Linked DNA regions of Homo sapiens: region 1 is linked to region 2. Evidence: fine-mapped expression QTL. A gene starts in region 2. The other region holds a variant in brackets. All regions are shown on one strand. Distances are between the middles of the regions.

Evidence for each region. PIP is the estimated chance that this variant, and not a neighbour inherited with it, causes the effect. A credible set is the group of variants that fine-mapping cannot tell apart.
Region 1: its variant is the best candidate, but not a certain one, in a credible set for the expression of HPRT1 in blood mononuclear cells (TOPMed, PIP 0.69).

Annotation. Positions count from the first base shown.
Region 1 is chrX:134,529,130-134,531,933 of GRCh38, reverse strand. No RefSeq gene overlaps it. Among named protein-coding and RNA genes, the nearest start is that of MIR450B, 9.7 kb to the left of the region's middle. RefSeq lists a silencer at 2,711-2,804. The variant G/A (reference allele first, on the strand shown) is at 1,452.
Region 2 is chrX:134,458,792-134,461,595 of GRCh38, reverse strand. It overlaps HPRT1 (hypoxanthine phosphoribosyltransferase 1), which reads right to left and starts at 1,431. Exons shown (of 9, transcript NM_000194.3): 1 at 1,258-1,431. The coding sequence starts at 1,284. RefSeq lists silencers at 1,160-1,339, 1,440-1,559.

The sequences.
Region 1 (2,804 bases), 70 kb before region 2:
AATATTATTCAGCCTTGGAAAGGAAGGAAACTGAGACATGCTACAAGGTGGATGAACCTTGAGGACATTATGCTAAGTAAAATAATCCAGAACCAAAAGGACAAATATCGCATGATTCAACTTATAAGAGTTATGTCCCCATATGAGTAGCACAACTCATAGAGACAGAAAGTAGAGTGGTTCTTGCCAGGGGCTGGGGTAGGAGGGAGAATAGAGTTAGTGTTTAATATGTATAGAATTTTAATTTGGGATGATGGGAAGGTTCTGGAGATGGATGGTGGTGCTGGTTGCACAACAATGTTAATGTGCTTAATGTCAGGGAACTGTATACTTAAAAATGGTTAAAATGGTCAATTGTATGCCATATAAATATAACCACAGTAAGAAGAAATGGGGAAAAATAAATATATGTTGGAAGGGTCAATTAATTTAAATAATTAATTTAAGAAATTAAATATTTAAATTAAAATATTAAATATTTTTAAAATACTTATATAAAAATAATAAATGGCTGGACACAGTGGCTCACGCCTGTAATCCCAGCACTTTGAGAGGCCAAGGTGGCAGATTGCTTAGGTCAGGCGTTCAAGACCAGCCTGGGCAACATGGGGAAACCCCATCTCTACTAAAAATAAAAAAAATTAGCTGAGTATGGTGGCAGGCGCCTGTAATCCCAGCTACTCAGGAGGCTGAGGCAAGGGAATTGCTTGAACCTGGGAGGCAGAGGTTGCAGTGAGCTGAGATCGTGCCACTGCACTCCTGCCTGGGCAACAGAGTGAGACTCCATCTAAAAAACAAACAAACAAACAAAACAAAACCAAGAGGAGGGAGTCGAAGTGCATGGGGGTCGGGAGAGTCTGCTCATCACGGGAGTCTGTGCTTGAGTGGGTTGAAGATGATGGCCTTACAGGGGGATGACCTGGAGCAGGGAGTAAGAGCCCAGGAAGGGTGAAGAGATCATCCGTGTGGAGGGGCCACCCAGTGTGGCATACAGAGCCTGAGGAGGGCGTCCACGCATGGGGCTAGCCTGGCACAGGTGTTAGAACCTAGAAGGTCAGCCTGGGCAACATAATGAGACCTCATCTCTGCAAACAAATATAAATAAATTAAACAAAAATAAATAAATAAGCTGGGCATGGTGGCTTGCACCTGTGGTCCCAGCTACTTGGGAGGCTGAGGTAGGAGGATCGTTTGAGCCAGGGAGGTCGTTGCAGTGAGCCTTGATGGCACCACTCCACTCCAGCCTGGGCGACAGAGCGAGATCCTATCTCAAAAAAACAGGACCCTAGAAGGTCAAGAATGGTGTCTGCAAGCAGGGTGTATAGGGCATCCACACAGGATGGTCTACTGGGGACTATCTGAGTCTGAGCAGGGAGGAGAGGGCATCCGTGTGGAGGGGCAGCCTGATGTGAGGTCTAGAACCCAAGCAGAGTGAGGAAGACATCCATGCC[G/A]GAGGCAGCCAGGCAGAGGGACTCAGAGTCCAAGTGCAGCCAGTAGGATGTCCACGTGGGGACCAGCTTGTCCTGGAGAGTCAGAGGCGGAGCTAGGGAGTCAGCATCTCCCTGAAGAGGCAGCCTGGCAAGACGGTGTCAGACATGAGCCGGGTCATGAGGGCATCTACACAGGGGCCGCTCGGCATGCAAAGCCAGAGCCCAAGTGGAGTAAGGAGGGTGTTTGCCAGGGGTGTGGGGTGGCCTCCTGCAGGTTTCCAAACCTGAGATAAAAGGAGAAGGCGGCCGGGAGCAATGGCTCATGCCTGTAATCCCAGCACTCCGAGGCAGGTGGATCACCTGATGAGGTCAGGAGTTTGAGACCAGCCTGGCCAACATAGCAAAACCCCGTCTCTACTAAAAATACAAAAATTAGCTGGGCGTTGTGGTGCACGCCTGTAATCCCAGCTACTCTGGAGGCTAAGGCAGGAGAATCGCTTGAATCTGAGAGGTGGAGGTTGCAGTGAGCCAAGATTGCGCCACTGCACTCCAGCCTGGGTGACAAGAGTGAAACTCCGTCTCAAAAAAAAGGGTGTGTGTGTGGGGGAAAGGCACCCACTGGGGGTCGGCATGGTGAGCGAGGTGAGGCCAGCCATGTCAGGGGTGGGGCCCAGTGTGGCTGTCAAAGGCCAAGCCAGCTGAGGACACTACTGCCAATGGGTAGCCTGGCCTGGGGTGTCAGAGCTCAAACCGGGGAAGGAGGGTGGGCTAGTGTTTGATGTCAGATCCTGAGGTGTCAGTAGCTCACCCATGTGGTCGGGGGCAGCCTGGCATAGAGTGTCAGAGTGTGGGTGGGGCATATAGGGTATCCATGCCATGGGGTGGCCTGGAGCATTGTTTCAGAGCCCAAGCAGGGTTCAGAGGGCGGGCGTACATGTGGAGGGCAGCCTGGCATGGCCAAATCTTGGCCCAAGTGGGCTGAGAAGGCCATCAATATGCAGAGTGGGTGGGACTAGTATGAATTCTAGAACACCCGATCCTAGTCACAGTTAACACAGCTGAGGATGGGAATGACGTGTCAAATGAAAACCGGGACAATTAGTAAAAGTCTAAACGCATGACAACCCCACCATCCCCACCCCTGCTGCCCTTCCCCATTGAGCTCCCTGGAAACCACCTTATTGCCCTGAGGAGTAGGCTGGCTTTTACTCTCCGTAGCAGATGTCTCTAGTACCTCTTGTCCCTTCCCCTTGAGCCCCACCGATTTCAGCTGCTGAAGTGCACTGTCTTCTACAAGATCAGCCTGACCTCATGCAGGCAGCACAGCGTTTGCCCTTGAGGGAGCATTAAGTCTCTTTCTGCTTTCAGTTTCAA
Region 2 (2,804 bases):
TCCTCTCAATAACTCCAAGAGGTAGCCAGCACCTCAGATATACATAAAATGACTTAAGCCCAGAGAGGTGAAGTAAGTTGCCCACAGCCACACAACTAGTAAATAGCCCAAACAAGCTGGATTCCCAGTTAGACTCCGTTAATAGCACTGCTCTTTACCTTAAGTCATTACAATGCCTAATATGAAATAGAATCGCTTCTTTCTTAGGGTTCAAGTGGTTAATTATTTAATGTATTCATTCAACAAACCATCATCGAGGACCTCTTACAAGCCAAGTACTGTGCTAAGTGCTAGAGTTACGGCGGTGATTCCTGCCCTTAAAAAGTTTTAGTGGGAGAAACAACAGGTAACCAGGTCATTGCCAAAACAACAAAAATAATCATAATAAAGCAGGCTAAAGCATATTTAACTGGCCGGGGTTTTGACTATTTTAGCAAGCATGATCAGAACGGTTGAGGAGGGAGGCCAGCAGCTTGGCCGGTTCAACAAACAAGAAAAAACCAGTGAGGGTGGAGCTAAGATACCAGAGGCTGATTACGGTTAAGAATGTTCTTGAAGGTAAGGACCAGATTCTCATTTTCTATATCCTGGGGCATCGGTCAGCATGGAATCTGGATTCTAGCACATGTGAATTTCGGCTTGAAATGACCTAATGCCTTTTCCCTAGTTCCTTCGTGTGTCAAATACGCATGGTTACCGCTACCAGAGCTGTAGTGGGGCTTCAATGAGGCCATGAGCATCTCCATAAAGATGAACTACAGTGTGTGCAAAACTAAAGGCAAAACCTGGTCCCCACACGCCCTCCCAGGTGGTCGCTTTCCGTGCCGAGGCCCCTCCAGAGGTGCCCCGAGAACCTCACCATCGCACCCCAAACTTCCAGGGAAGGGCCTCTCCCGAGAAAGCCCCCACGCCCCCACCCCGCGCCATCATTCCCGAATCTGCCCTCGGCCCCTCCCCGCAGCACGCTCGCAGGCGGCACATGTCAACCAAAACGCCATTTCCACCTTCTCTTCCCACACGCAGTCCTCTTTTCCCAGGGCTCCCCCGAGGAGGGACCCACCCCAAACCCCGCCATTCCGTCCTCCCTGCCGCCCTCGCGTGACGTAAAGCCGAACCCGGGAAACTGGCCGCCCCCGCCTGCGGGGTTCCCTGGGCCCGGCCGCCCGAGCCCGCACTGCGGATCCCGCGCCTCAGGGCCCGGCCGCCACCTGCCGCGTGGGCCTGAACCGGCCAGGGCCGGCAGGCCGAGCTGCTCACCACGACGCCAGGGCTGCGGGTCGCCATAACGGAGCCGGCCGGCGCGCGGGCTGACTGCTCAGGAGGAGGAAGCCGGTGGCGGAGCAGAGGAGGAGGCGGAGGCGCAGCAAGAGGCGGCGCCGCGCGGGAAAGCCGAGAGGTTCGCCTGAGGGCTCGTCGCAGCCGCCTGAAGCTGAGGAGAAGCAGGCCCCGCCCTCTGCCCGCCCCGCCACGCCCCGCAGGCCCCGCCCCCGGCCCCGCCCGCGCGCCTACGCCGGCGCCTACCAGTTTGCAGGCTCACTAGGTAGCCGTGGGAATTTTCTCCCAGAAGAAGCCGAGGCTCCCCCAGCGAAGCCCCTTTCCCTCCCAACTCAGTCTCCTATTCAGAGGGCTCCCTGATTCCCAAACCTACCGGCGCGCGTTGCTTCATGGCGGCCGTAAACCGGGCCCCGGCTCTTCGGGTTCCAGTCATCGCGTGAATCCTTGGACCAGACGTCCCATTCCCAAGACCTTGCACTACCTGTGGCTTCCATTTTCCTGACTCTTGGCCCAGTGCTTCCCCAAACCCTTAACTGGTTGTAACAGTTGAGACCTAGAGTCCTAGAGTCACCCAGATCAGGGTACACATCTGAGAGGACACTTAACTGCTCTGTAGTTTTGTACAAATCAGACTCTGAGCCTCTATTTTTGCCTCACTAAAATGAGCATATTAGCCCGGCGCGGTGGCTCATGCCTGTAATCCCAGCACTTTGGGAGGCCGAGGCAGGTGGATCACTCAAGGTCAGGAGTACGAGACCAGCCTGGCCAACATGGCGAAACCCCATCTCTACTAAAAATACAAAAATTAGCTGGGCGTGGAGGCGGGCGCCTGTAATCCCAGCTAGTCCGGAGGCTGAGGCAGGAGAATCACTTGAACCCGGGAGGCGGAGGTCGCACTGAGCTGAGATCGCACCACTGCACTTCAGCCTCCGCGACAGAATGAGACTCCGTCTCAAAAATAAATAAAAATAAAAATAAATAAAAATTTAAAAATAAAATGAGCATATTAACAATACATAAACAGGATCATTTTGAGTATTAGAGGAGTATAGGTATGCGTGTGTGTATGTATATATATATGCACTTAGGACAGTACAGTCAGCAAATGGGAACTACTGTTATTACTACTGATCTTTATTTTTGCCCACACAAGTTCTTATATTGAATCTGAAAACAAAAATATGTTCCCCTGCTAATTAATTCTCAGATAGGTCAGGTAAGCAAGCAACAGTTGCTCCAGCAACACCATTTCTTATATACTCAACCCTATAGCTCCAGCATCCACCACAGTGCCCAGCACATAGTTGGTGGCCTCCCTCTTATTAAGGACGCTGAGGGGTATGTGATGGCAGGAGATTTGTAAAACTAGGCAAGTCATTGAGCTTCTCTGGACCTCAGTCTCTTCATCTAAAAAATGAGAATAATAAACCTGGGTAACATGGTGAGACTCAGTCTCTACAAAAATGAAAAATTATCTGGGCCTGGTGGCCATGTGCCTGTAGCCCCAGCTACTTGGGAGGCTGAGGTGG